Linked DNA regions of Homo sapiens. The protein of the gene in region 1 purifies or fractionates together with the protein of each later gene. This does not show direct contact. Each region holds a gene or a part of one and is shown in the gene's direction. Other genes may lie near its edges.

The links.
Region 2: the proteins of CLEC4E (region 1) and SFXN3 purify together in Homo sapiens (affinity purification with mass spectrometry; 2 studies listed by BioGRID and IntAct, with this or other methods). This does not show direct contact.

Annotation. Positions count from the first base shown.
Region 1 is NC_000012.12:8,532,805-8,546,745, reverse strand, and holds CLEC4E (C-type lectin domain family 4 member E), read left to right. Parts: upstream 1-5,840; 5' UTR 5,841-5,948; coding exon 5,949-5,985; intron 5,986-6,798; coding exon 6,799-6,891; intron 6,892-7,439; coding exon 7,440-7,529; coding exon of another isoform or gene 7,530-7,546; intron 7,547-9,479; coding exon 9,480-9,631; intron 9,632-10,540; coding exon 10,541-10,656; intron 10,657-11,936; coding exon 11,937-12,108; 3' UTR 12,109-13,441; downstream 13,442-13,941.
Region 2 is NC_000010.11:101,026,303-101,043,073, forward strand, and holds SFXN3 (sideroflexin-3), read left to right. Parts: upstream 1-4,931; 5' UTR 4,932-5,232; exon of another isoform or gene 5,233-5,640; intron 5,641-6,011; 5' UTR 6,012-6,171; coding exon of another isoform or gene 6,172-6,180; intron 6,181-8,389; coding exon of another isoform or gene 8,390-8,392; coding exon 8,393-8,553; intron 8,554-9,194; coding exon 9,195-9,365; intron 9,366-9,641; coding exon of another isoform or gene 9,642-9,700; coding exon 9,701-9,799; intron 9,800-10,183; coding exon 10,184-10,259; intron 10,260-10,364; exon of another isoform or gene 10,365-10,420; coding exon 10,421-10,506; intron 10,507-10,773; coding exon 10,774-10,901; intron 10,902-11,079; coding exon 11,080-11,129; coding exon of another isoform or gene 11,130-11,471; exon of another isoform or gene 11,472-12,068; intron 12,069-12,340; coding exon 12,341-12,390; intron 12,391-12,872; coding exon 12,873-12,920; intron 12,921-13,186; coding exon 13,187-13,283; 3' UTR 13,284-14,939; downstream 14,940-16,771. Other genes in the region: PDZD7 (PDZ domain-containing protein 7), read right to left, coding at 3,692-3,917. UniProt on the Homo sapiens protein: Mitochondrial serine transporter that mediates transport of serine into mitochondria, an important step of the one-carbon metabolism pathway.

The DNA of each region.
Region 1 (13,941 bases):
GGAAACCTGACAGATACTGCCTCAGTCGAGTGTTCAAGGTTCACATTAACCATGATGTCGTATTGATAGTAGGTACCCTTGATACTCTGCGATGAGAATGGCACTTGCTTTTGTGGTCTTCCTTCCCAAACCCATAAACCTAGCCTAATCATGAAAAACCATCAGACCAACCCCAATCGAGGAACATTTTACAAAATACCTGACCCAACCAGTACTCCTGAAAACTGTCAAAGTCATCAGAAACAAGGAAAGTCTGGGAAACTGTCATAGCCAAGGATCCTGGATGGAATCCTGGAACAGAAAAAAAAATAGGCAAAAACTAAGAAAATTTGAATAAAGGACTTTAGTTAATAATAATACACCAATGCTAGTTCACTAATTATGACAAATGTGCCATATTAAAGTAAGATGTTAATAATTGGGAAACTGGATGTGGGCCATATAGGGACTTTCTGTACAGTGTATTATAGTGACAATTTTTCTATGTATCTGAAACTATTCCAAAATTTAAAATGTAGTTTAAAAGTTATTTCTAATATTTTTTAAGTGGCGTGAAAGGGGAGGAGATAGATGGGGGAAGTACTAAAATGTTAATGGATCACTGTGAGAGATTAGGTTGTTCGGCTGTCCCACCAGCTCCTCAAACTTTAAGAGGTTACACAACAGACTTGTTCAATTTGTCCTAACCTGAATTTTAAAATCTGATGATTACACACACACACACATGCTCTCTCTATATATGTATATGTGTGTATATATATGTATGTATGTATATATATACATACATAATCTCTTCAGAGTCAGTGCAGACTAAAACAGTACAAAGTAAAGGAGAGGATTATGAGGAAGGTGAGTGACATGTGGTCCAATGTCTCTTGGCACAATCCCCAGCAGAAGACATAAGGCCATACGCATCAGTATGAGTAAAATGGTAAGGGATGATGAAGAAACATTATTGGATTGCTGGACATTGGTACTTAATCTACTGTCACACCTAAACCTGCCAATGAAAAGTGAAAGGGAAATATAATTAAATACAGAAAACTTGCAGGTGATAGTATGGCCAGAAGTAGATACAATCATCCCTTGGTATCAGTGGGGGATTGGTTTGAGGACCCTGCTTTGAATACCAAAACCTGTGGATTCTCAAGTCCCTCATATTAGTACGGTATTTATGAATGAAATTAATGTATGATTTTGTCTCAGTCCAACTAGAATATATTTTAAAAATGAGCATGATGTCTGAATGGCGGACTCTTTCCTTACCCAAACCATTGGAAAAGACTGCCAATCTTCTCTTCATCCTGTTTTTAATTGGACCTGCTAGATGGGAACCCTTAGAATTGCTTAAGCACATTCAAATGATTATTTTAAAACAATATAGGATGGGGGGTTCAGTTTTAATTAAGAATAGGCTGGAGGAAGAATTTCAGCTTTAATTAAGAATAAGTTAGACACAGTCATGTTAATGCCCACAGATTCCCTGTTTAATAATCCAGTATGGCCTAGAAGAAAACTTGGTGGATCCTGGAGATGAATTGTATGTTAGAGAGGACTGAATAAAATCATGCTTCCAACAGCATCAGCTGTACCCAAGATGGCATCACAATTCAAGCTTTGCTAAAAGCTAAAAGACAGTAATATTCTGTTATCTATTTGCCTAAAACCTTATTTTCTATCTCTATTTAGGGAGAAAATCAAAGCTAATACACATTCATGTGGGATGGATTCCAGTATACATTTGCTATGTTCCCATAAGGTTATTTAAATTCTCCTTTTTATCACGGCACTTGGCAAGAAGATACTTAGATGTGATCAATTAGAAAGTAATATTATTAACTGCATTAATGTCATATTAACTCAATTTGAAGATCTAGCAAAGATTGAATTACTGTATAATGCTTGTTAATCATATGAGGCTGATTAACCCAACTAAAGAACAGGGTCCAGGGGAAATGGTAAAATTCTTAGGCATCACCTGGACAGGGGAGATGAGAGGCATCCCTCAGACAACCAAAAATAAGTAATTGTCTCTGCCAGCTCCAAAATGAAAGCAAGAGGTGCAAAGATGTTGGCTTGTTAATGTGGTGGAGAAATGGCATACCCCTGTTAATAAAGTTATCAAGAAAAAAGCTAAATTTGACTGAAGTTTTGAGCAAGATAATACATTTGTATTTTTTTTTGTTTTATGTTTTTGGAAATTAAAAAGCCCTTGTAAAGCCCTGTGGGGCCCCACGAGTCCCAAACACAGACGATTTAAGAAGTTTCTGCAGCACACAGTCAAGCCATGCTGACTGGAGCCGCTGGCAAAAGCCTGTTACTGCCACCTAGTGGCTGCCTGTGGGATTTTTGTAATAAAAAGCTACCTGGCTGCAGCTTGAAGTAGCACCATTTAAAAGGAATTGCTAGCTTGTTACTGGGTTTTAGTTGAAACTGCTTTTTGTACTGAAGGACATAAAATTATTTGAAAACTCATAACATCCTATTTATATCATATCATCATTCCAACAAGAAATGAAATGCACAGAATTCCCTCCTTGAATAGAAAGGAGATACTCAAGAATGTGAAATGGGGTTACCCAATGCATGCACAGTCAGGTGGCTGACAGGTCACCATAAATTTGGTTCCCCTGAGGAGTTGGCTAAACCTATAGCTGAATAGGCCCCTCTCTCTGGTCAGCTGTCAAGGCAGCAGTGTGGCTTACAGATAGATGGCAGTTCAAGGGTAAAGGGCTGGCCGTCAACCTGGGAAGCAGCAGCCCTGGGATCAGTTAGTGATTGCATGTTAGATGAAAAGACAAAAAATAAATCTGCCCCAAGGCTAAAATTGAGTGATGTTTCTCTTGGCATCAAAGAAAAGTAGATACTAACAATACTCGTATGGCATAGATGTTTACAGCTTTTACTGATTCTTTTTCAGTTGCCTGAAATATTGACAGGCAATATAGTTTAGAAAAGGGACTTAGACGATAAGTTCCTGGATGATATTTAAAAAGGGAAATCAAAGAATCTATTGCTGAACAACAGGTGCTGGAGAGGATGTGGAGAAATAGGAATGCTTTTACACTGTTGGTGGGACGTAAACTAGTTCAACCATTGTGGAAGTCAGTGTGGAGATTCCTCAGGGATCTAGAACTAGAAATACAATTTGACCCAGCCACCCCATTACTGGGTATATACCCAAAGGATTATAAATCATGCTGCTATAAAGACACATGCACACGTATGTTTATTGTGGCACTATTCACAATAGCAAAGACTTGGAACCAACCCAAATGTCCATCAATGATAGACTGGATTAAGAAAATGTGGCACATATACACCATGGAATACTATGCAGCCATAAAAAATGATGAGTTCATGTCCTTTGTAGGCACATGGATGAAGCTGGAAACCATCATTCTCAGCAAACTATCGCAAGAACAAAAAACCAAACACCGCATGTTCTCACTCATAGGTGGGAATTGAACAATGAGAACACTTGGACCCAGGAAGGGGAACATCACACTCTGGGGACTGTTGTGGGGTGGGGGGAGGGGGGAGGGATAGCATTAGGAGATATACCTAATGCTAAATGACGAGTTAATGGGTGCAGCACACCAGCATGGCACATGTATGCATATGTAACAAACCTGCACGTTGTGCACACGTACCCTAAAGCTTAAAGTGTAATAAAAGATAAATAAAAATAAATAAAAATTAATCCCCCCCCCCAAAAAAGAAATCATTAAGCATGGTCAACTTTAGAAGAATGCACTAAGGATAGTTAAGAAGGCTTTTACTTGTCACATGCTTTTCATAGTATTAATCATAAAACATATTACTCGTATAATTTGGGGAAAATCAATGAAACAAAAGATATAAAAACATTTTGGCTGGAAAAAATATTAATTTATTGATTTCTGTTTAATTGTATATTGATAAAAATTAACATACAATTGTTTAGTAATATTGATGGTTGCTGGTTGATTGTAATTAATAAAAGATGGACTGTGGTAATTATGTTCATCATTTTATAATTCATATAGCTCATCCACTAGATAGTTTCTCTTTTTTTACTGATCAAAAGCTATTTGCTGAGAATACACATATTAAATATGGGTATATTCTATAATATACACATATATAATTTAAAGATATTTTTAAAATTGTATTACTATAAAACAGAGAATGCAGAGAAAATTGACCAGTACCTTGAAATAATAAAAAGTCCCTTTGAGAACAAGAATATTTTCTCACACATGGAAAATTCGTGAGTCACTGGATGTGGGGATTTACCAAGTCATGTACATCATACTTATGCCTCCTGACTCGTGAACTTAAATAAACTGAGACCAGTGTGATCTTATTCTTAAGTATCTTTAAGTAAGGAGAAGGCACATATCTAACTATTCTTCCAGAGAAGCATTAATTCTTTTTTTTTTTTTTTTTTGAGACAGAGTCTCACTCTATCGCCCAGGCTGGAGTGCAGTGGTGCAATTTTGGCTCACTGCAACCTCTGCCTCCCAGGATCAAGCTATTCTCCTGTCTCAGCCTCTCAAGTATCTGGAATTACAGATGCGTGCCACCACACTTGGCTAATTTTTGTATTTTTAGTAGAGGTGGGGTTTCACCATGTTGGCCAGGCTGGTCTCAAACTCCTGACCTCAAATGATCCACCCACCTTGGCCTCCCAAAGTGTTGGAATTACAGGCATGAGCCACTGCTCCCGGCCCAGAGAACCATTAAATTCTAATATCTAATTGAAATTGCTTTTTCTGACCTTCAAATACATTTCTCCTACTGTAGGCTGTAACATAGAACTAAAATCCCCAAATAATTGAGAACAGGAGAATTAAACTGCCTGCTGGGTCTCTGAGACTTCAGAAGCTGCGTTATGTTGTGAAAAACTAAGCTGAGTTTCAAAGTGGTCTAATCACATGAGGCTGTCCTGCTGAGGGGGACTCTAGTAGTCAGCCTAGTAGTAGCAGCCTAGTAGTCAGCATAAGATAAGAGGGACATAAATCCACAACATTAGAATATTCAAGAGCTGCAAATGAAGAAGAAAGAAAAACCATAAAAGATGAAAAAGAGGACGGGCGCGGTGGCTCACGCCTGTAATCTCAGGACTTTGGGAGGCTGAGGCGGGCGGATCACGAGGTCAGGAAATTGAAACCATCCTGACGACCACAGTGAAACCCCGTCTCTGCTAAAAATACAAAAAATTAGCCAGGCGTGGTGGCGAGCGCCTGTAGTCCCAGCTACTCGGGAGGCTGAGGCAGGAGAATGGCTTGAACCCGGGAGGCGGAGCTTGCAGTGAGCGGAGATCATGCCACTGCACTCCAGCCTGGACGACAGAGCGAGACTCTGTCTCAAAAAAAAAAAAAAAAAAAAAGATGAAAAAATTCAGGTTGCCATGTCCTAAATACATACACTATATGCCCAGCTTTGTGCTATGTTGTCTAAGTCTTCTTTTCAGTTACCAAATGTGTGGATGGTACAGATCCAAAGTGAAATTCAGAGTGCAGAGGTGAGCTCCATATTGTCAAGGAAAAACTGGGGGATGAGTTATGCCTTGAAGAAACTAGAGACATTTGGTCCAACGAAACGAAACAACATTTAAAAAAAAAACTCTCCTGTTTCCCCATGGCTAGCCTATTTGTGTTGATGCTTACCATTTCATAATTTCCTCATTTTGTTGTTACATGGAGTGAAGAGAACTGACATGCTGTCCAATAAACTTCCTTGTCCTCCTTATGCAAGAAAGGAAATCCTGACTTAATGCGTAGCCACAGAACAAGTTAATATTCTACATCTATCGGAGCTGAACTTCCTAAAAGACAAAGTGTTTATCTTTCAAGATTCATTCTCCCTGAATCTTACCAACAAAACACTCCTGAGGAGAAAGAAAGAGAGGGAGGGAGAGAAAAAGAGAGAGAGAGAAACAAAAAACCAAAGAGAGAGAAAAAATGAATTCATCTAAATCATCTGAAACACAATGCACAGGTAAAATCTGCAACTCTTCCTTTCCTTCCATAGATCTCTTTTTGGAACAAGTGATAAATATGGTGAAAGACAGGACAATAGAAAAGTATTCACTGAAGTTAAAAAAAAAAGTGGGGGGACAGAGGAAGAGAGAGAGAGAGATTTAAAGACTATTTCTTATACCAGAAAGCCTGCTGGCCTCTAGCTAAGGGAGAGCTATCAGTTTCCACCCTTTCTGCAATACATTGTGTCCCTTTTGGCAAGTCACTTCACTTCTCTGGAACTCTCTTTGTCTGTAAAATGTTTAATGGGAGGAAGAGAGGAACTATTAGATGACTGTTAACATTTTACCTAATTTACAAAGCGCTTGAAAAGTGAGACACAGAAAAAAAAAAAAGATCAGGAGAAGGACAAGAAAAGCAAAGACGAGAAAAGGGAAAAGAAAGAAAAAGAAAGAAGGGGGGCCTTAGAAAATACTGAAAAAAATTTAACTGAGAGACTTAGAAAGGAAAAATTGTATATCTGAGTTCATGAGTCAGAGTCTTACTCCAGGGGTGCTAAACGTGTGGTCCTCAGACCAGCAGCAGCAGTAGCCCCTGGGAACTTGTTGGTTCCATACAAACTCTACTGAGTTGCTAACTCTGGGGGTAAGGGTCAGCAATCTGTGTTTCCATAAACCCTCCAAGTGATTCTGAAGCATGCTGAAATTTGGGAATTACTCAGTACAAACAATGGAAGTAGAAGGAAATAAGTAAGGATGAATAAGAATCTCTTCTATCTCTTTTGTACCTTGCTTAGGGAAGATTGATCATGTTTGTGTCTTTCTTTCTACAGAGAGAGGATGCTTCTCTTCCCAAATGTTCTTATGGACTGTTGCTGGGATCCCCATCCTATTTCTCAGTGCCTGTTTCATCACCAGATGTGTTGGTGGGTTCTGAAGGTCAAATTCAATTTAATTCTTCCTGGTGCATATTAGGAGAAAACTCTTCCATGCTGCCTGTAGACTCTCTTTGCCCTCAAAGGGTCTTTCTATTTCACCCTTTTTTTTTTCCCTATTAATCTCTAGGTTATTTCTCAAACCAGAAACCTCAACAAGCAGGGAACTGTTTCTGAATTTTAATCACCTGTGACTTACTTTTCATGATAGACATTTTTCACTTCCTTGGCAGTCCTGAATCCTCCTCTTTCAGCCTCTATCATTAGTGTAACCTTCTCTAGGAGAGTCTGCCTTAGAGCTTGAACTACTGGTCGGCACCAGAGATATGACTAATTACTTTTGGAAGGAAGGGTAGAGAGAGTTGGACTTGGCATAAGAGGTAGTGCAAACATATCTATTTTCTCTGGGTCGTAAGAAAAAGCAGATTGTAAGAAAAAACATGATAATTATTGGCACTTTTGTTATAAATACAAAACTGAGGGAACTGACATTTTTAACCGAAATAAGACTAACAAACATTATGCCCTTTCTTTTACAGTGACATTTCGCATCTTTCAAACCTGTGATGAGAAAAAGTTTCAGCTACCTGAGAATTTCACAGAGCTCTCCTGCTACAATTATGGATCAGGTATAATAGTCCCAAAGGTGAACATCAAAATTTACAAAGCAACATTTTCTGGCTTCTAGATTGACTTTGGGACAGGTGAGATATAGCTGGATTAGGTCTTATTTTTCAAAAGCAAAATGTAAAATCCTAGAAATTTGGTGATGCAATTAGCATTGGGGCAGAAAGTCTTGGGGACATTATAGTAAACTTTTAGAATAAATTTGAGGGGTATGTCTGAACAGTAAATCTGGAAGTGGAAGGTATTATTCCCAGGAGTGTACCTTTTTTTTCATTCACCTACTTCCAAAATGAGATGGAGAAAAAACGTATGGAGTAGAGAATTTATAAATATCTCACAAATATACTCTCTATGCTCTTCTATGTCATCCTGTTGCAAGTCCTAGCAAAATGCTACATGACACTAAAAAAGTGACTTCCTTCTCTGAGCTATAATTTTCTCACCATTAAATTGAGAGAAGTTAGAAGAATTATTTATAATAGACCTCAAAGGCAAAAGTTCTGTAATTCTAAGAAATCTAACTGTAGGGACCAGCCCCACAGGGTTGGTGGGTCTCTCCCTGTGTCCAGAGACGAGAGCATGTAGAAATAAAGACACAAGACAAAGAGATAAAAGAAAAGGCAGCTGGGCCCAAGGGACCACTACCACCAATGCGCGGAGACCGGTAGTGGCTCCGAATGTCTGGCTGCGCTGTTATTTATTGGATACAAGGTGAAAGGGGCAGGGTAGAGAGTGTGAGTCATCTCCAATGATAGGTAAGGTCATGTGGGTCACGTGTCCACTGGACAGGGGGACCTTCCCTGCCTGGCAGCCGAGGCAGAGAGGGAGAGGAGACAGAGAGAAAGACAGCTTACGCTATTATTTCTGCATATCAGGGACTATTAGTACTTTCGCTAATTTACTACTGCTATCTAGAAGGCAGAGCCAGGTGTACAGGATGGAACATGAAGGCAGACTAGGAGTGTGACCACTGAAGCACAGCATCACAGGGAGACGGTTAGGCCTCCGGATAACTGCGGGCAAGCCTGACTAATGTCAGGCCCTCCACAAGAGGTGGAGGAGCAGAGTCTTCTCTAAACTCCCCCAGGGAAAGGAAGACTCCCTTTTCCTGTCTGCTAAGTAGCGGGTGTTTTCCCTTGACACTTAACGCTACCGCTAGACCACAGTCTGTCTGCCTGGCCACGGGCGTCTTCCCAGACGCTGGCGTCACCGCTAGACCAAGGAGCCCTCTGGTGGCCCTGTCCGGGCATAACGGAAGGCTCGCACTCTTGTCTTCTGGTCACACCTCACTATGTCCCCTCAGCTCGTAGCTCTGTACGGCCTGGTTTTTCCTTGGCTATGATTATAGAGCGAGGATTATTATAATATTGGAATAAAAAGTAATTGCTACAAACTAATGATTAATGATATTCATATATAATCATATCTAAGATCTATATCTGGTATAACTATTCTTGTTTTATATTTTATTATACTGGAACAGCTCGTGTCCTCTGTCTCTTGCCTCAGCGCCTGGGTGGCTTGCCGCCCACATCTAACCCATCTATATACTACAGTATGGAGATTTGATTGAGGATACATTGTTTAGGTAACATAAGAGATGGCTCTTTGGGGGTCACCCAAATAAAATGCATAAATTTCTCTGACATTAGTAGTCTAAGAACAGATAATAAGGTTCTATATCAATAGCATAACTAAGATAGTTTGCATATATAGTTGCATTTCCTGGCACTGACATCCAGAGAATGAGAATTACGTTCAAAAGACCAAAAACATTCTGTTTATGTTTCTTGACATTGGAATTATCTAAAGTCTTAGATACTAAGATGTAGGGTATGAACAAGTGATTCCAAGGCTTCTGACTTAAATGAGGACTCCATGGGGCCAGATGAAGCTTTGGGTTTTCTTATTCGGTTCACCTGGGACACTCACTGAAACATCTCTCATCCTAGGTTCAGTCAAGAATTGTTGTCCATTGAACTGGGAATATTTTCAATCCAGCTGCTACTTCTTTTCTACTGACACCATTTCCTGGGCGTTAAGTTTAAAGAACTGCTCAGCCATGGGGGCTCACCTGGTGGTTATCAACTCACAGGAGGAGCAGGTAGCTGGAGTCCTCCGATGCCAATGTAACATTCCCGACATGGTCCACCTCTCTTTTCATACATATGCACAGTGCTTGACCCCCAATGACTATTGTTAATGAATGTACTAAAATGCATGCTGTTCTTACTATTTCGGTAAAGTCACTGCCTACCTTAATTTATTTTCCTTCCTAGAAGAACCTAAGAAAAAGGGAATTTCCATGTGGAGTTCCTTTAGTTAGGCAAGGGGAAAAAGAGGGTTGGAAGTGTTAATTTTAGACGAATCGTTATGTTTATGAACATATTATATGAAAGAAGAGAAGCAAATATTGTCCGTTTTCTTTAAGCTGTGATTAATAATATTTTGCGCTAGATATATTCAATAAATTTGGCCACCAATAATAGTAGATAAACTTTGAAAGAATTATTGAGGATCTCCTTTTCTGTTGAAGGTTATTTTTTCAGTTTAATTTTATGTTATGTATATTTTACCACAAAAAAAAATCAGTAGATAATCCTCATGATCTTACAGTTTCACTTATCTGTTATTTCTCATCCAGATTCTTTTTTACTTTTTGAGATGGAGTCTTGCTGTGTTGCCCAGGCTGGAGTGCAGTGGCGCAATCTCGGCTCACTGCAACCTCTGCCTCCCAGGTTCAAGCGATTCTCCTGCCTCAGCCTCCCAAGTAGCTGGGACTACAGGCACCCGCCACCATGCCTGGCAAATTTTTTTATACTTTTAGTAGAGACAGGGTTTCGCCATGTTGGTCAAGCTGGTCTTGAACTCCTGACCTCAGGTGATCCACCCGCCTCGGCCTCCCAAAGTGCTAGGATCTCATCCAGATTCTTACCTCTTTGAATAATAATTACTAGCAACGTTTATTCAAAACTAAAATAACTGATCTCCTTTTATTTTGTATCTTCCATAGGAATTCCTTTCCTACAAGAAACCTAAAATGAGAGAGTTTTTTATTGGACTGTCAGACCAGGTTGTCGAGGGTCAGTGGCAATGGGTGGACGGCACACCTTTGACAAAGTCTCTGAGGTAATTACCCTCCTATTGAGAGGAGTTCTTGAAACCTCCTTCTGTTACCTGCAATAGATCAGGTCCATTATTGGTGGTGGTATTAAATGCAGGAAAGAGAAGAGCTAAGGTAGAAAAGATGAAGGAGAAGTACAAGCACCCACTTCTCTCCTTTCCTGGAATTGTCTCAAGAATAAAGGGGAAATAATAAATGAAAATGAACTGAAGAATCATTCACTGAGAATGCAAAAGAGACGAGAGGTGGAATTAAGAGTCTTATTCCCCAAAACTGAAGGAAATGAGGAAAAAAATAGTAAGTTGAGAAAGACAGCAGGTTCTTATGCAGTGAAAAATGAGAATCTCTTGATAATGTCTCTTTTCTCCTTAATAATAGCCTCACGTCATTAGAACATAGCATTTTTTATTGTGGATATGCTTTTTTTGTTAGATTGGTTAATTGATATATAAAATATTTTGCTATATATGTTGATTCTCATGATTTGTTAGGGAGTGAGTTTTTTCTTTTTTCTTTTCTTCAACTTTTATTTTAAGTTCCAGGGTACATGTGCAGGATGTGCAGGTTACATAGGTAAACGTGTGCCGTGGTGGTTTGGTTTGCTGCAGAAATCATAACATGACCCGGGTATTAAGTCCAGCATCCATTAGGTATTCTTCCTGATAGAGCATAGCATTTTTAATTTTTTTTCTCATTTATTATTTCATTTTACCTAAATTACACTTTCTTGGAATGTATCAGTATTATTAATCTTTATTTAGCATTTGAGGAAACTAAAACTCAGCAGAGTTAAGTGACTTAGCTAATGAGCAGTTCTAAGAGTACAACAGAGATACTCTGACATGTTAGAAATGCTGCTTCACTACCACACTGTAACATCACTGCAGGATGCACCTAAGTTAATACACACTCTGTGCAGAATAAAGAGAGCTAAGCCGATATGAGGTATGAGTGTGAAGAAAACAAATCTATCAGAATATCAATCTTCCCCATAACTTCTCATTCTATAGCTAAGGAACAGGACAGAATAGAAAAGGAACAAAGGAACAGGACAGAATAGAAAGTCAGAAAGATCCGGTTCAGCTTCAGTACTCACAAACTGTGACTTCGACAACTAGTTTAGCTTCCTGAGGTTCCTTTTCTTCTTCAATAAAATGGACATTATAATACCTACCTCGCAAAATTGTTGTGAGGTTAAATAACACAAATGTAATTTGCCTAGTATATTAGGTTACTTTACCTCTTTTTGCTGGGATTTTAAGTCTCCTATGTCATTCTTTTTCAGCTTCTGGGATGTAGGGGAGCCCAACAACATAGCTACCCTGGAGGACTGTGCCACCATGAGAGACTCTTCAAACCCAAGGCAAAATTGGAATGATGTAACCTGTTTCCTCAATTATTTTCGGATTTGTGAAATGGTAGGAATAAATCCTTTGAACAAAGGAAAATCTCTTTAAGAACAGAAGGCACAACTCAAATGTGTAAAGAAGGAAGAGCAAGAACATGGCCACACCCACCGCCCCACACGAGAAATTTGTGCGCTGAACTTCAAAGGACTTCATAAGTATTTGTTACTCTGATATAAATAAAAATAAGTAGTTTTAAATGTTATAATTCATGTTACTGGCTGAAGTGCATTTTCTCTCTACGTTAGTCTCAGGTCCTCTTCCCAGAATTTACAAAGCAATTCACTACCTTTTGCTACATTTGCCTCATTTTTTAGTGTTCGTATGAAAGTACAGGGACACGGAGCCAAGACAGAGTCTAGCAAAGAAGGGGATTTTGGAAGGTGCCTTCCAAAAATCTCCTGAATCCGGGCTCTGTAGCAGGTCCTCTTCTTTCTAGCTTCTGACAAGTCTGTCTTCTCTTCTTGGTTTCATACCGTTCTTATCTCCTGCCCAAGCATATATCGTCTCTTTACTCCCCTGTATAATGAGTAAGAAGCTTCTTCAAGTCATGAAACTTATTCCTGCTCAGAATACCGGTGTGGCCTTTCTGGCTACAGGCCTCCACTGCACCTTCTTAGGGAAGGGCATGCCAGCCATCAGCTCCAAACAGGCTGTAACCAAGTCCACCCATCCCTGGGGCTTCCTTTGCTCTGCCTTATTTTCAATTGACTGAATGGATCTCACCAGATTTTGTATCTATTGCTCAGCTAGGACCCGAGTCCAATAGTCAATTTATTCTAAGCGAACATTCATCTCCACACTTTCCTGTCTCAAGCCCATCCATTATTTCTTAACTTTTATTTTAGCTTTCGGGGGTACATGTTAAAGGCTTTTTATATAGGTAAACTCATGTCGTGGAGGTTTGTTGTACAGATTATTTCATCACCCAGGTATTAAGCCCAGTGCCTAATATTGTTTTTTTCGGCTCCTCTCCCTCCTCCTACCTTCCGCCCTCAAGTAGACTCCAGTGTCTGTTATTCCCTTCTTTGTGTTTATGAATTCTCATCATTTAGCTCCCACTTATAAGTGAGGACATGCAGTATTTGGTTTTCTGTTCCCATGTTTGCTAAGGATAATGGTCTCCAGTTCTACCGATGTTCCCACAAAAGACATAATCTTCTTTTTTAAGGCTGCTTAGTATTCCATGGTATCTATGTATCACATTTTCTCTATCCAATCTATTGTTGACTCACATTTAGATTGATTCCATGTTTTTGCTATTGTGAATAGTGCTGCAATGAACATTCGTGTGCATGTGTCTTTATGGTAGAAAGATTTATATTTCTCTGAGTATGTATCCAGTAATAGCCCATTCATTTATTGCATAAAATTCTACCAATACTGATGACGTTATTAAAGAGTACATCAATAACGTGGCAGCTTTCATAACCATGTTTCTTGCACAAAGTGCCATGAGGAGACCCTCAAAATTCAATCACTGGACACCACGTGTAATCACTGAATGAGAAAATTCAACTGGACAAGTGAATATAACACATCAGCTTTCATTGCAAAAGTTTATTTCTCTTAGGCATTGTGACAATCTGGTTTTCAAATCAACACATCTTTAAGCCAATTATTTAACCTAAAAGTAATTTTAAACATACTTTCAACTTTCTAATTCCCTTTTTTAAAATCATGAACATCAATAAGGAGATGCTGAAAGACTTTTTTTTTGTTCATTGGTGTTTCCCTGAAGGTGGCTATAATTTAAGTTTTATTTCTAGATTGAAAGACATATGGAAATATTATTCCATATTATTTCTCCATATATATTTAGAATTTAAGTTTAAAGACAAGTTTTAAAGACAGGTTTATAAAACTAAACTTGTCTTTACAGTT
Region 2 (16,771 bases), on another chromosome or scaffold:
TTTTGTACTTTTAGTAGAGACAGGGTTTCACCATGTTGGCCAGGCTGGTCTCGAACTCCTAACCTCAAGTGATCCACCTGCCTCGGCCTCCCAAAATGCTGGGATTACAGGTGTGAGCCACCTTGCCCAGGCCAGGTAAGGTTTCTGTAAGGACTCTGATGGGTGGGATTTTGATGGGTGGGGGGTAAGGGGGGGCACTGATGAGGGGGAAAGAGCCAGGGAGGCTCAGCTGTGGGCCCTTGAGGAGGCCTTCCAGTTACAGAAAAGCAAGAAGGCTGGAGGGGTAAGTTGGGTCCCAGGTGAGAAGCTGAGATTTCTTCATAGGTAAGGGTTACTCTAGAGGTGTTTGACAGGGAGAAATCACACACACACACACACACACACACACACACACACACACACACACACACTTCAATTTGATCTAAGAGAAGTCAGGTTACAGGGCACGGCCAGGGCAGCTCAGAAAGAAATCCCCGAGGGCAGCCTGGGGGGAGGGGTGGTGCAGGACAGATGTGGGGGGCCAGGGCTTTCCCAGCTGATTAGATTACACAGATCTCAGGACACTTTCAGCCTTAGCCAAGGAGCCTTTTACTCCCTTGCTACCAACCCTCTCTCCTCAGGGCCTCACTGGGGCCTCCCTAGGGCCCTAGGTCAGGGAATGTGAAATCTGAGATTTTCCAGGAGCCTGAGCCCTGCAAGGATGGAATCTTCTCTACCTCCACTGCCCCAGCCTCTCCCCCAGGTGCTCCACTGCAGCCCCGGCACTATCCTTGCTTCCACTCTTGCCGCCTTTAGCTATTCTCTATACAGTACCCAGAGTCAGCTTTTACATTAGCTCATGTCTTTTCCCTGATTAAAAACTTCAACACCTGTTCCTGCTTCTAGAACTCCAGTCTCCTCACCATGCCCTATAAGGCCCTGCCTGGGCTTTCCTCTGCCCACCCCTCCGCCCTCCCCTCCACCCTCCCCTCCCTCACTGAGCTCTGGCCACACTGATCTTCCTGTTCCTCATGGAGGCCAAGCCCTTCCAGTGTTCCCTCTGCCTGCAGTGCTCCTGCCCAGGCCTTTAGAAGGTCAGCTCCTCTTCCTCGTTCCCCTCCTGGCTCAGACACCACTTTCTTGGAGAAGGCTTCCTGGAGTGTCCTCCCTTCCTCCCAGTGAGTACCTCTTGTAGGGCTTCTCAAAGCGTAATCCTGGATCAGCAGCGTCAGTGTCATCTGAGAACTTGCTAAAAACGGGAATTCCTTCGCTTTACCACAGACCCACTGGACCAGAAGCTCTGGGACTGAGCCCTGCAATCTATCCCTGAATGAGCCTTCCCGGCAATTCTGAGGCATCTGAGGTTTGAGAAGCACCATTCTATCATGTCATCAGATGATCACATTCTGACTCTTCCCATCCTTTGTCGTCGTTCGCTTATTTGTGATTTATCTGTCTCTTTTCACTAGACCATAAGTTCAATCATGGTGGGGACTTCGTAATACTCTTCTAGTATATCTCCAATATGTTGGACAGTGCTTGGTATTTGATAGGTATTTTTTTTGAATAAGTGAAAGAATAAATGGATGGATGGATGGTCAAACTAGGAGAGTGAGGAGAAATGCATTAAGGGTAATGCTTTCCTGGATTAAAGGTAATGCATTTTCTCTGGGACCAGTTGAATTTAAGGAGCTGGTGGGATCTCATGGGGCCGATGTAGGTGGCAATGTCACCGTTTATTCCTTATCAGTTACTTTACTCCCCGGGAGTGATCTAAATAATAACATGGGGCAGGGTTCCAGGCTGCGGTGACTTGGGAGATACCTGTTCTCAGGCAGAGGGGAGAATTCTGAGCTCAGAGGGTCCCAGTCCAGTCAGAGGAGAAGCCAAGTGGTCAGAGCAACTCCTCAGTCCCTCACTGCTAGGAGATGCTGCTTCCTTGGCTGCACAGTGGCGCTAGCATGAGGCAGAGGGAGAAAGCAATCATGAAACCCCTGGAAGAGGATCTTTAGAGGGACAGTATAGGCCAGGCATGGTGGCTCATGCCTATAATCCCAGCACTTTGGGAGGCTGAGGCCGGAAGATCACTTGAGCCTAGGAGTTCAAGACCAGCCTGGGCAACATGGTGAAACTCTGTCTCTACAAAAAATAAAATAAAATAAAATTAGCTGGGCTTGGTGTTGCATGCCTATAGTTCTGGCTACTCAGGAGGCTGAGGCTGGAGGATCACTTGAGCCCAGAAGTTTGAGGCTGCAGTGAGCTATGATCACACCACTGCACTTCAGCTTGGGTGAGCGACAGAGCAAGACCCTTTCCCTCTTAAAAAAAAAAAAAAAGACGTTATAAACAGCGCTTGCATCATACATGGGCAAAGGGAAGGGGAGAGAGAGAGAAACAGAAAGAGTGTATCAGAGGGAGTATAGCATAGTTCTTTTAATAGAATGGGACTAATAAAGACAGTTATGCGGTGCCTGCTTCCCTTTTCCCCAATGTCTCCTAACTCCTCTGGGGACTTCTGCTCCCTCACCAGAATGACCGTGGTGACCCTCAGCAGTGCCCTGTGCTCACCAGAGGGTGAAGCATAGACTGGTGTATGACAGGGGTGAGCGTGCCAGGGCACTGGTGGAGGAAAGCCTGCTCCCTGAGCAACATGCCCCACCCTGCTCCAGTGGCCTAGGGAGGGGAAGAGAGATGCCCTGCTGGGTCAGAGGGGGAGGAGCAGGGCCTGAACAGTCCAGTCTGGGATCCAGCCAGGGGAGCTCTGCTGGCTAAGAAAGAGGAGAGGAGCTGGAGATATTTATCTGGTCCTGCTCACAGAAAGCTCAGACTCAGGGGGCCTGGCTCCGCACCTGGCATTCTAGGTCCTGTCTTGCTCATCAGCTGTTAGTCACCTCACATCTGTCACTACAGCCAGGCTGGCTCCTAAGTGCCCACCTACCATGCTCCATGCTTTTCACTTCCAGCCTTTGTTGGTGACAGCTCACCCCTGCCACCAGCTGTTCTTATTGCTCTGTCCTGCTACACTGTAGATTCCTGGAAGGTGAAGAGGGAGCCTGATTTCTCTCTAGGTCCCTTGTAACACCTCCCCAGGGCTGGTATAGAATTGTGCTCCATGAAGCGGCATTAAGCAACTACATAAGCTTAGGTCTCCCCTTCCCTGATGGAGCTCCCTCTCCACCCTCAACCCTCCTCTTCTGAACATTTGCTGTGCTGCCTTCATTCCCCTCCTTCAGCACGGAAGCCCTGAATTCTGTCTACCCGCTTGGGCACTGACTCCTCGCAGCCCAGCACAGAGCTTGTCACACAATGGACTGGTTGATGGAGGATGTCCTTCTTTATCCTGCCCCATCCCCCAGAAGTACACACAATGGATCTGGAGAAGGGCAGAGCCCATGGGAGAGAGGCCAGTTCAATCCCCTGCCTTGTCCACCAGGGGCTAGCATACCACACGCATGCCTGTCCCTGCTGCCATGGCCTTCTTTCCCTCCTCTGACCCTTCTACGACCCTGGACCCCTGCAGGATTGGCCTGGAGGAGAGGCCAAGGGCAGGTGAGGAAGAGTGTATGGGTTCCCAGGCGGCCTGCCACCTCCCTGTGACTCCCATCTCTTGAATTCCCCCAATCATACTGGCTCTGCCTCCTCCTGCTGAGTTCCCATTGTCCCCTACCCCCACCCTCCCCAACCCAGGCCAGTGGCTGGGTCCCGCCCCTACCTTCGATGGGGGAGTTGATGAGGATGACGCGTCCCATGGGCGATGAGGCTCGGATTCCGCGGGGGGGCCCGTTCAGCAGCCGTTGTTGCTTCCTTAGCAGGTATCGCGTTGCGGTGGAGCCTGAGTCGCTGCCTAGGTGGCCTCGGGAGGAGAGGGAGCTCAGAGAGCCGGAGCTCAGGTCTCCTAGGCCCAGTGGGTCGAAGCCCACTGCGAAACCCTGCGCCATGGCGGCTGGGCTAGGGCGGCACCCTACAGGTCCAGAAGGAATCTGCTAGCTCTGGAGAGGCCAGCCCTGCGTGCTTCGAGCTCCATGAGCCTCTGTGCGGGGCTGGGGTCTCAGTAACGTGAAGGCCCTCGCTTGCGATGCCTCTCAGAAGTGTGAGCTCCAGGCCTGGGCAGGGAGAGCAGGGATGAGGGAGGGGTGTAAATGTTTCCCCTGCTGCCCCCTAAAACTTCCACCCCTCCCCCTGGTTTAAGCATCCTGCCCTCCCATGCCTTAGGCCCCCCTCCTGTCTCACCCTAGGCCAGAGAACTGCCCCGTCCAGGCACCATCTTGGACTCTCGCTGACTTTATACAAGGCAGGTGGGAACCTTTCACCCCTCATTCCTGCTCGGGGCTGAGTCATCTACTCCCGTCCCCAGTCCTCAGTAGAGGTTGAGAGTGGAGTTGGGATTACTGCGGGCCCTGGGGCTTAGAGAGGTGTGAGACAAAAGAGAGGTCAGGACAGCTCATGGCATCACCTCTCTCATGCATATGCGGGCATGGAGGTGGCCCGGGGTGGGGCGGGGGCTGCGTGGGGCGGGCTGGGCCTCGAGGATAGGGCTTCAGGACCTTAGACAGCTGAGGCCCAGGAAGACCCCCAGACACCCGCGGGCTCCAGGCTGCGGCTCCGGGTCTAAAGAGGCTGCATGAACCTCTCCCAAGCTTTGGGGAGGATCTGCTGGAGAGGGGTCCCACGACATCCCGCGCAAAACCCAGGGCCAGTTCCCTCAGAGAAGCTCTGGGACCTAGAATGAAGCACCCCAACATCAACTCGGCCCTCCAGGCCCCCCACCCCTTTGTGCCTGGTCGGCCTCACCTGGTCGCTGGTGTGGCGCCGCCAGCCTTGTCAAACCACCCGCAGGCGAGAGCTACTGCCGCAGCCGGCAAACCCCACCCACGCTGCGCGGAGGCTGCGGGAATTGGGCTGGCCTGCACCGCCCCGGGCTCCCATTGGCTGGTAGGGCCGCCAGTCATTCTATTCCGGCACCTCCCTTAGGCGCCAGGGACAGCCGAGCGTTACCTGGTCCCGGGCAGCGGAGTTCTTTACCCACCCCAGTTCTGGTTCTGACGCCCTAGCTCATTCCGCAAATTTAGGGCTTGGGTCTGGCTTGTTCCCCTCCGGCTCGAACCACCTCTTCTCTGAGCCGAGCCAGCTACCGGGGCTCCTGGAATTGCCACCCCTCCCTGGGCACCCTTGAGGCCTCCGTGGAGGGACGTCACGGGGCAGAGCGGGACGTGAGCCTGAGTTTGCTGCAGGCGTGCTCTGTGTGGTGGCTGGGTGAGTTGTGAGTATGTGCGTGGCGGAGGGGGTGCCTTCTTCACTTGCATCCTCCTCCTCTGTCAGAAGGCGTCTCTGGCTACCCAGTTCTGGAATGGTCGCAGGGTGGGGCAGCTGGTCCCAGGACCGGAAGAATCCTAAGAATCCTTCTGATGCACTTGCTCGGATGCAGACCGCGAGGTTCCTGGGGTCGTCTGCCCCTCCACATCTCAGGGGTGGGGCTACGGTCTGGGGTGCAGGGCTAGGGGTTGGGAGCGTAAGGAGACCAGGGACACAGTGGAGCTAGGGGTTACAGAGGGGGAGCAGGGAGAGGGCTGGGGACATAGAAGAGGCACAGGCACGACAGGAACGGGGCTGTGAAGTGATGCGAATGCCGCGCTGCTACAAGAGGAGCTTGTGGATACTGGGGTAGGAGCCCAGGGGGACAAGCAAGCCAAAGGCCATTGCCAAGGCAGCCATCAAGTAAACAAGCCAGGCGGTAACCCGAGTCCCTCCCGGCGCGCCAGCAGAGGACCGCCCCTCCACACCGCCCACCTGCGCCCGGGGCTTTCTCTCTGGGCACCTAGACCGCTTGCTGCAGGGCTGGGGGTCTGCTGAGGCCCGCCAGGGGACTGTAAACCAAGGGAGCAGCGCCCGCGGCTCCAGCCCCTCCTCCCTTTGGCTGGGGAGGGGGCCAGAACTGATCCCCGAGGTGGGATTGGCTCTGGGAAGCAGCTTAGGGCCTGGTCCAGGTGGCCCAGGCTGGGGGCATCGCCTCGAATGACACCCACCGCCCTCAGGTTCTGCCAATCCCCGTGCCCACCGGGTGGGCGCGGCCGGGAAGCTCCTGCCCCTCCCTGCTGGTCGGCGTCACGCGTGACGTCCCGCGTGATGGCTGGGAGGGCCCGGCGGCGACAGCGGAGGCAGAGAGGAAGGCGGTTCTGAGAGCTTCAGAGAGCGATGGAAAGCGTAAGTGCTCGCTCTCCCCGGCGGGCGGGGTTCTGGAATGGGGGTCAGAGAAGGAGGCCTGCCTTGAAACTGTCTGTCCTGGTGCAGTCAATGTCCTCGGCTCTGTGGAGGTCCAAGTCCACAGGGCACAAGGGAGGTTGGGGGGAGGAATGTCAGGGTGGGGCTGTGTGTAGTCACACATTCAAGTGTCTGCAGATGGGCACAGTGTGCGCCTGTAAAGGTGTTTGAAGGCCGGTGTATACAGGACACCTCCACTCTGTCTGTATGTCTGGGCAGGGTGTGCATGATAGTGTCTTTGTGTGTGGGTATGTGAGTGTGAGGGGAGGGCGTCTCTGCCTCTGCGGGAGGAAGTGTGGCTGGAGAGGATTAGTCATTCTGTAGGATTCTGCCCAACTCAGCCAGATGGCTGCACCAGGCTTTCCTCTCTGTGCTGGGTGGAGGGAGCAGCCACTGAATCCTGCTCTTATCCGGAGGCAAGTGGCCCAGAGAGAGGTGGATGAGTGTCTGTGCCAGCCCTGCCTGGCCAGGGACCAGGGAGAGCCTGGGGTCATTCAGTGTGAGTTGGAGAAAAATGGGTCTGTAGAGAGGACTTGTGCGTGCCCACATGCACACACATGGCTGACATCAGAGTCCCCTGATTGAGATCTGGAACAGATAAGCCCTGGGTGGCCAGTAAGGCCTTGCTCTCCTCCAATCAGGGACTGGAGTGTGGGATGTCTTGTGCCATTTTCCAAAACAGCCTTGGGGGTTTGTATCCAGGTCTCAGTGCAGCTGGGGCCTAAAGCTCACCTGAGCATGGGTGTGTAATATATATATTATATATTCTTGTGCATCTGTAGCACACGTGGCTGGGATGTTTGTTGCTGCTTATGTGTCAACCACATATATGTAAATCCTCACTCATGAAAATCTGTACCAGGATAGAGCACAAGGAGATCTGTTTTCCTGTTTCTGGTCTTCCCTTCCCCCTCCTCCAGTGGCTGCAGGTCCCTGGGCTGGGACATTGCCCAGGAAACAGCTCCTCCCCACACCCTTGCTTACCTACCTAGTTGAAGGGGTGGCCTGCCCCTCCACACCTGTGGGTATTTCTAGTAGGGTGGGACAAGAGACTGAGAAAAGAAATAAGACACAGAGACAAAGTATAGAGAAACAACAGTGGGCCCAGGGGACCGGCGTTCAGCATACCAAGGATCTGCACCGGCACCGGTCTCTGAGTTCCCTCAGTTTTTATTGATTATTATTTTCATTATTTCAGCAAAAAGGAATGTAGTAGTAGAGCAGGTTGATAATAAGGAGAAGGTCAGCAAAAAACATGTGAGCAAAAGAATCTATGTCATAATTAGGTTCAAGGGAAGGTACTATGCCTAGATGTGCATGTAAGCCAGATTTATGTTTCTCTCCACCCAAACATCTCAGCGGAGTAAAGAATAACAAGGCAGCATTACTGCAAACATATCTCACCTCCCACCATAGGGCGGTTTTTCTCCTATCTCAGAATTGAACAAATGTGCAATCGCGTTTTATATGGAGACATTCAGTTCCCAGGGGCAAGCAGGAGACAGTGGCCTTCCTCTATCTCAACTGCAAGAGGCTTTCCTCTTTTACTAATCCACCTCAGCACAGACCCTTTATGGGTGTCAAGCTGGGGGACGGTCAGGTCTTTCTCATCCCACGAGGCCATATTTCAGACTATGCATGGGAAGAAACCTTGGACGATACCCCGCTTTCAAGGGCAGAAGTCCCTGTGGCTTTCCGCAGTTAATTGTGCCCCTGGTTTATTGAGACTAGAGAATGGCAATGACTTTTACCAAGTATACTGCTTGTAAACATTTTGTTAACAAGGCACGTCCTGCACATCCCTAGATCCCTTAAACCTTGATTTTATACAACACATGTTTTTGTGAGCTCCAGATTGGGTCAAAGTGCTGGGGCAAAGTGGCTGGGGCAAAGCTACAAATTAACAACATCTCAGCAAAGCAATTGTTTAAAGTACAGGTCTTTTTCAAAATGGAGTCTCTTATGTCTTTCCTTTCTACATAGACACAGTAACAGTCTGATCTCTCTTTCTTTTCCCTACATCTAGTCACCTTGAGCTCTTGAAGGGACTGATGATAAGCTCAGGGGCCAGGGCAGGGGCACCAAAGATTTCCCCTAGCTGGAGCCCTTGGACCCTTGGACTCCCGCTCTGACCCTTATCTCTGTCCTGCAGAAAATGGGTGAATTGCCTTTAGACATCAACATCCAGGAACCTCGCTGGGACCAAAGTACTTTCCTGGGCAGAGCCCGGCACTTTTTCACTGTTACTGATCCTCGAAATCTGCTGCTGTCCGGGGCACAGCTGGAAGCTTCTCGGAACATCGTGCAGAACTACAGGTGACCACCCCTCAATCTGACCCTGTGTGCCAGGATCTCATTTTCTGTGATTAATATAATATGTTTTGTACCTGCCTCCTCAAGCTTGACAGTGACCCTGTCCCTCAATCCCCTCACTCTCTAGCCCCGTCTGTTGGCATCACAGAGCTTTAACCCAAAGGATTTTAGGGCATTTGGGTTGAGAAGATGGCATTGATATTTATGGGAGGGGCTGCTCTATGCATCACAAACCTCTACAGGGATCTATCCCATTGCGGGGTCACCCTCTGCAAGGATAGAGGTGCTCAAAGTGGAGTCCCAGGAAGATAGGAGGGAAATCCCCTTATCTTTGGGAGGAAAAACTCTTGCAATGCTTGCAGCCATTTTTGACCCACTGGAAACCACCATCATCCCTGACCCAGCATTTTGGCAGAAACAGAAGGGTACCCCTCTTTGTGTGGCTATAAGGGAAATAGAAATAGGAGCCTCCACTTCTGGGAAACTTTGGCCCTCTCCCAAAGATAAGGAGCTTCCTTATGCTGAGACTGGGGGCTGAAGTTCCTGGTTCTCTGTCCAGAGTTACCCTGAGCTGGGCAGGTGGGGCCTGTGAGGGCAGATCTGCCCCCTGGCATAGCCTGTCTGCTCCTTGCCAACTTCTGCAGGGCCGGCGTGGTGACCCCAGGGATCACCGAGGACCAGCTGTGGAGGGCCAAGTATGTGTATGACTCCGCCTTCCATCCGGACACAGGGGAGAAGGTGGTCCTGATTGGCCGCATGTCAGCCCAGGTGCCCATGAACATGACCATCACTGGCTGCATGCTCACATTCTACAGGCAGGTCTTGTCCCACGTCCCCTTCTTCAGTGCCCTAAGCTAGAGCATAGCTTGACTAGGTGCGCTTCTTGTCTGGGCCAACTGGGTGAGTGAAAGATTGTGTCAGAATCGCTTCCATTCCTCAGAATTCAGCCTCAGGAGGTCTCTCACCCCAGAGACAGTAGGTGTGTTTGTATAAATGGGGGTGGGGGTACATAGGGGTTACCAGAACAGGTTCTAGGGCCATTAACTGGGTCCCTTCTTAGGCTTGGGGAATAACCTTTGGTTTCATTACAGGGGTCTAAAGATGAGGGCCACTGTAGACGGGGCAGAAGTGAGTGTCTTTGTTCCCTCAGGAAGACCCCAACCGTGGTGTTCTGGCAGTGGGTGAATCAGTCCTTCAATGCCATTGTTAACTACTCCAACCGCAGTGGTGACACTCCCATCACTGTGAGGTGAGAGCCAGCCCCCAGCAGCAGCTGCACTGTCCCATCTGACCCTCTCCTCCCAGCCTGCAGTGCCCTCTCCTTTCTCTCCGGTTCCCTGTGGACCATGCAGCCAGTGCTCAGCGCCCTCTCCTCAGCCTGCCCCACCCCGAATTACCCTGCCTAACTGAAGGCATGAGGTCCTCTTATGTATGCTGTGGGGGACCCACCCCTCTTCACAGGGTGCTACTGGGGCTTCTAGACAAGTTTACGCCGGAGATGGAGGGAAGGCTTCTTCTGCAAGGAGCTTCCCCTTTTATGCCTCATGTATTGAGGACTTGGCATATCCCTAAAGGAAAGGGCCACCTGCTGGACTTGTCACCTCTCCCCGTGACCTGGCTTTTCCACCCACAGGCAGCTGGGGACAGCCTATGTGAGTGCCACCACTGGAGCTGTGGCCACGGCCCTGGGACTCAAATCCCTCACCAAGGTAAAGGCCCCTCACTCCCCTGACCACCCCATTCATCCTCTATCTGCCTCCTTCTTCCTCATCACACCTCCAGTTCTGACCTATATGCCCCCTATATCTCCCCAGAGTCCCTCACCACCCCATGGCCCTTAGGGCCACTGAACAACACCCTTCCTCCCCAGCACCTGCCCCCCTTGGTCGGCAGATTTGTGCCCTTTGCAGCAGTGGCAGCTGCCAACTGCATCAACATCCCCCTGATGAGGCAGAGGTGAGTGACCCCGGCTCCTGGCATGTGCATGCCCAGAATGTAGCACACTGTCCATCCACGCAGACCACCTCAGAATGGGGACATCCCTCTCCCTCCCCAGACATGAGCTGCTGGGCCCTGGCTCAGTCTGACCCTGGGATCCTCAGGTGGGAGAACCAGCCTTTGAGCCTGGGGTGTGTGAGGGGACCCTGAGGAGCCGCTGCTCATTCGGGCATTGCAGGTGGGATCCGGGGCCTGTGATCTGACCCCAACCCCCCTCCCTTGCAGAGAGCTGCAGGTGGGCATCCCGGTGGCTGATGAGGCAGGTCAGAGGCTTGGCTACTCGGTGACTGCAGCCAAGCAGGGAATCTTCCAGGTGGTGATTTCAAGAATCTGCATGGCGATTCCTGCCATGGGTAAGGCGGGAGTGGCTGGGTGGGGCATAGGAGACTCTGAGAGAAGCAGGTGCAGTTCTCAGGGACTTTGGAGGACTCTGGGGAGAGAGGGAGGAGCTTTGAGGGGGGTCACCCTTCACAGTTCCTGACTTTAACTCCACTACTAATGTTCTCCTTCTTGGCCCTGCTCTCCCCACAGCCATCCCACCACTGATCATGGACACTCTGGAGAAGAAAGACTTCCTGAAGGTAGGCGACTGTACCTCTCTTGTCCTGGAATGGGCGATGGCTGGGAGAAGTGACCAGGCCCCAACTCTCTCTCCAGCCTCGCCTGATTCTCTAAGACTTGCCAGCCCTTCTCCTGACCCCTGCACCGCCTCCTCCACCTTCGTTCATTCAGCAAGAATGAACTGGGCTGGGGTGAAGGAACTCTGCAGGGGCAGGAGGAGAGGACAAAGGAAGGAAACCAACTTCATCAGTGTTACTCCAGTGGCTTCTGACACACAGAAGGGGACTGTCATAGTCATGCTTGATCTCATGCTCATTCTTTTACCCCCTAGTGCCTCCATACTGAGAGGTACACACGGGTGAACACGCACACACAGACATGAACAGGACACGAAAGCAAAGCACAGGAACAAGCTCTGGCTCATTCACAGAATCATTTATTCACAAATGTATTGAGTGCCATGCACCAGGCATGTTTTAGGGCTGAGGAGATGGCACTGAACACAATGGTTATGGCCCCTGTCCTCATGAAGTTTATAGTCTGATGCAGAAACCAATAAACAAGGAGGCACCCAATAAATACATTCTTAGAAAGTGTAATATGTGCTTTGTAGGAAAGCAATGGGGGTAGTGTAATTGAGATTCATGGGGGAGAGCTGTTTAGATAGGATGATCAGAGAAGGGGTCTTTAATGCCGCAAAGGATGAGGAGAGAGCCAAATAACGCAGAGAAGAGTGTTTGGGGTACAGAAAACAGTCAGTGCAAGGGCACTGCAGTAGGAGGGGCTTGCACATTTGAGGAACAGGTTGGTGGTCCCTGTGGCCAGAGCAAATTGAGAAGAGTGCCGAGGAAGAGATGTGCTTGGAAAGGGTCAGATTCATGCCACTGGGATGGGAAGAGGTAAGTGGAGGTTCACAGGAGGTTTCCTGAAGAAATCAGCTCCTGGAGGAAGTGAGGGAAGAAAAAAAAGGGCCAGGGAGTGCCATGGCAACCAATTCTGAGAGGTGAGAGGTCATGGGATGCCGGGGAGGGTGATCAGCAGACAGGCCTGGCTGGAGTGGAAGGGCGTGATCTGGAGGTCCCAGCCCTGTCATTGCCTTGGGAGAAAGAAAACGGCCACAGGTCTAAGGGCTCCAAGGCAAGGCTGATGGGATAGAGCTATGGTGGGTGAAATGGGGTGACAGTGAGGCAGGGGACACAAGCCGTTCCATTGTCTTTCTGTCTCTCCACAGCGCCGCCCCTGGCTGGGGGCACCCCTGCAGGTGGGACTGGTGGGCTTCTGGTAAGTGTGCAAGGAGTTAGCTGGGGTGTGTGGGAGTGCCTTGTCCATGGTGGATGTGGGTGGGTATGGATTGTCTTTAAGATGTTTATAGACATCATCCATTCATACATTCAGTGGGTGTGTGTTTGGAACAACTATAGGGTCTACTTTGTGTGTTACGGGGTGGTCCCTGTCCTTGAAGGTCAAGATCCTAGTGAGGGGGTTCCAGTCTTCATCTATAAGAGGAAACCATGGAAATGTACCTTTTGGTGCCATCCAGGAGATTCATGCCCATTTAATTCCTGATTCTGCCACTTACTGGTTGTGGGGCTCTCTTTCCTCAGAACCTGATGTCCAGGTTGGGTTTACTATTCCTAAAAGGTCCTTTCAGCTTTTATCAATCTCCACCCCTAGGGCCTATCTCCAAGGATGGGGTGGGGTGCAGGGAGGGAACACCCTAAGGCCAAAGCTTTACAAACCTTTCCAACACTTGTCTCCCCCAGCCTGGTATTTGCAACCCCCCTGTGCTGTGCCCTATTCCCCCAGAAGAGGTAAGTGCTGTCCCTGGGCTGGGTGGGGGACTCTGGATTGGACTCTGCATCTCTGGACCAGCTGACCTAGGGTCTTCCAGGGTGTTCAGGAGGAGGCCTGGCAGGCACTCCACTGATTCTGGGAGTGGGGGAATGACAGTGAGCCAGTCCTTCTGGCAGTAGAAGGAGAGGATTTTTCAGCCTGGGAGGAGGTGGGATGGCAATCCCTGGGCCTGAGTGGGGTTGGATTCAGGGGACGTTAACTGGCCTGTGCTGTTCTATTGCAGCTCCATACACATAAGCAACCTGGAACCAGAGCTGAGAGCTCAGATCCATGAGCAAAACCCCAGCGTTGAAGTGGTCTACTACAACAAGGGGCTTTGAGGAGGGTCAGCCTCTGTCCCCTCCCTCACTTCCTTGGGCTGCTGCTTTAGTGGAGTCATGTCACCCCTACCACTTGGCTATCTGCCTAGCACTGGGCAGGGGCCTTGGTGGGCAGATGGCAATTGAGGGTAGCAACCTATTAGGGTGGGGGAGGGACCTCCATAAGGCTTTTCCTCCCTTCTCTGGTTTCAAAGATCAGAGCACATAACCCCTCCTGTGCTTGAGTGTCCATGCATATACATACATGATACACATGTGTATGTGTACATTGGGTCCTGAAAGCTAGAAGCAGGCATGCTAGCCTAGTATGTTCTGACATCTGGCTTCCCTTCTCAGCCTCATGTCCACCTGCCTGCCAGCCAGGCTACAGGTGTGACTTCCTTCTCTAAACTGTTACACCAGCCAAGTTATTTTTGATGGCACCTCATCCCTTCTAGAAATAGGAGGAGCCCCAGGATCTCAGGACAGAGACTTATAGACACTAGTAGGACAAAGCGGGCTGAATCCTTCAGGTTTCTGATACCTAGCTCCCCAAGCTGACTGGGCTGGCAGAGGAGAACATGTTGAGACAAGGGAGGCAGGGGACTTATGCATCCCTCAGTGCCATCCCTTGTATCCTGGAATAGCTCCATTTCCCCTCCTCCTCTCTACCAGACAAAGGAGTGCCTGTGTCCTGTACTGCCCTCGCTGTCTCCCCCACCACCCTACTTGACAGCGTGGGCATCTTCAGGCACAGCCTTGGGAGTTCCTGGTGTGCTCTGACATCATGACCTCAAATCTAAATCCTCCAATCCCAACTCCCTTTCCCAAACAAAAAGCCACAGAGGCAGAGCAAGCATTCCCCTTTAAGAGCTTCCACTGCACCCCCTCCCAAGGGACACAGCGGTAGGAATGGTGCTTAAACTCCACAGGTATCAGAGAGGGTGTAACTAGGACATCCTCAAGGGCAGCTAGGCCCCGAATGTACAATGTTAAGACAGGGAATTTTGTGTTCCATTGACTTTTTTTTTTTTTTTTAATGGAGTTTCACTATTTTGCCCAGGCTGGAGTGCGATGGTGCGATCTTGGCTCACTGCAACCTCTGCCTCCTGGGTTCAAGTGATTCTCTTGCCTCAGTCTCCCGAGTAGTGGAAATTACAGGTGTGTGCTACCACATCTTGCTAGTTTTGTATTTTTAGCAGAGATGGGGGTTTCACCATGTTGGCCAGGCTAGTCTCGAACTCCTGACCTCAGGTGATCCACCTGCCTTGGCCTCCCAAAGCACTGGGATTACAAGCATGAGCCACTGTGCCCAGCCTGTTCCACTGACATTTCTTAGACATTCAGCAAAACCCCCACCTTAACCTCTTTTCTTTCTTGAGGGTTGGTCCTGTCCCCACCTCCACCCTCCCACCCCCTGGAAGAGGAAGGGCCCGGGCATCAGTGGCTAGTCCAAATAAAATATGGGCTTGGGGATGGAATGGGTGGTGGTAAGTTCACAGAGTGTAGTTAGATCCCAACTCCCATGACCTCTGGCTTCAGTGGTGGGTGGGGCAGGGCAGATGAAAGGGCTTCAGTGGGAACCTCTGAGAGCATTTTCCTGTTCCCCCTATCAACCGCCCCCAGTGATAACATCTGTGAAGCCAGCCATTACTCAATAAACTGCAAACTTGTCTACTTCTTGGTCTTCACTTGATTCCACGTCCTGAGGGCCCAGAAAGAGTCCCCTGCTTGCAGCCTTCCGTCTCTCCCTGGACTCTCCCCAAGTCCAGGTCTTGTCTCATTCCTCCCCCTGTGTAGGGAGCCTCATGCCCCAGCAGAGGGAGCTCTGAGATTAGAAAATCAGTCCTCCCTCTGGCACCCCCAAGTATGTACTAAGACAGAGGGCGAATGTAGATGCTTTCACCTTTTTTTTTTTCCTTTTCTTTTCTTTCTTTCTGTTTTTTTTTTTTTTTTTTTTTTTTGCGACAGGGTTTCACTCTATCACCCAGGCTGGAGTGCAGTGGCACCATCATGGATCACAGCTCACTGCAGCCTCAACCTCACCAGTTCAATTGATCCGCCTGCCTCAGCCTACCAAGTAGCTGAGACTACAGGCACGTGCCACCACACCCAGCTAATCTTCTGTATTTTTTTATAGAGATGGTTTTTGCCAAGTTGCCCAGGCTGGTCTCCAATTCCTGGGCTCAAGCCATCCACCTGCCTTGGCCTCCCAAAGTGCTGGGATTACAGGCGTGAGCCACCGTGCCCGGCCTAGATAACCAGTTTTAATTTCATCCTGTCCTGTCAATCACCAAGCCCACTGGAATCCTTAGTCAACTCTTAAAGCTCTTTCTGCAGTTACACTTTTGGCCTTTGGCAATCCCCTTGAAAAGAGGCCTTGTATTGCCAAAAACTGCAATCACTTTTGCACCAACCTAATACTTTTACTGGAAAATCTATGTAACATAACCCCATGTGGGGAGTGAGGTACAGAAATCTCTGCAAAACAAAACCCTTAAGAACATTTTATAACAGAATTATCTGTGCTCCACAGGTATCACTAAACCATGTCAGAGAAAAGATTGGCCAGGGCACTAGTGGGCTTCTCTGTCATCTTTCCTTCCTAATTCCACACCAGTTTCTCAAACACGTCAAAAGAGTTAGCTATAGGGCACATCACAGGCTCTCTAGGGACAAACCTTAGCCAATCATACCTTCCAAACTGCCTCCTTATACTTGGAAATTTCCTCAGAAGTCAGCATTTGGGCTGACGCAGCACGTTTTTCACTAGAAAGTGCTCTGCCCCATTCTTGGGTGGGCCTCCTGTCTTCCTCCCAGACCTCAGACTTTAGGAACTTTCTCTGGAAGCCTGAATTGGTGTCTTTGACCTTCCCTCCCATCTTCTTCCCCTTGCCTGGCCTCATTTGCTCCAGAGCCCCCATCCTGCCTATTATGAAGACCCGAAAGACCACAACCTTCCCTCTCTCCCTGCCCATGTTTTAAGTTTAGCCTGGCCATAGGGAGGTGGTCAAGTAGGGATATTCTGCTCCTTTCCAGGATCACCGGAACCAATGACACCTGCTTCCTAAGGACAGGTAATCAGGACCAGCTTCAACTCTGGCACTGTGGGGCTATGCCAGACTCTGGCCTAGTCCTGCTGGGTCTGATGCCCTACAGGTCAGAGCCAAGCCCCATTTCCTCCCAGTGAAGCCTGTCCATTTCAAGCCCCGCCCCCGGGCCCTCGCGGTCAAAAGTAAGCCACCACCTTCTGGGAACAGTCAGAAGCAGAGTCCCGCCCCTGCTGTGGTCCCTGTCAGTCAAAGCTAGGCTCGGCTCCGCCTCCTTCCCGTTTCCCGAGCAACGGCTTTAGTACCTCAGGCCCCGATTCTCGCTCACCTTCCGGGTCGGAGCCTGGAAGCTACGTCTCAGATCCGCCTTCCCGCTGACCTCGATCCTGCGCCGTTAAATCCACCAAGTCCCCCTCCCTCCTTTCCAATATCGAAACCCACGAATTCCCTAGCGCCAGC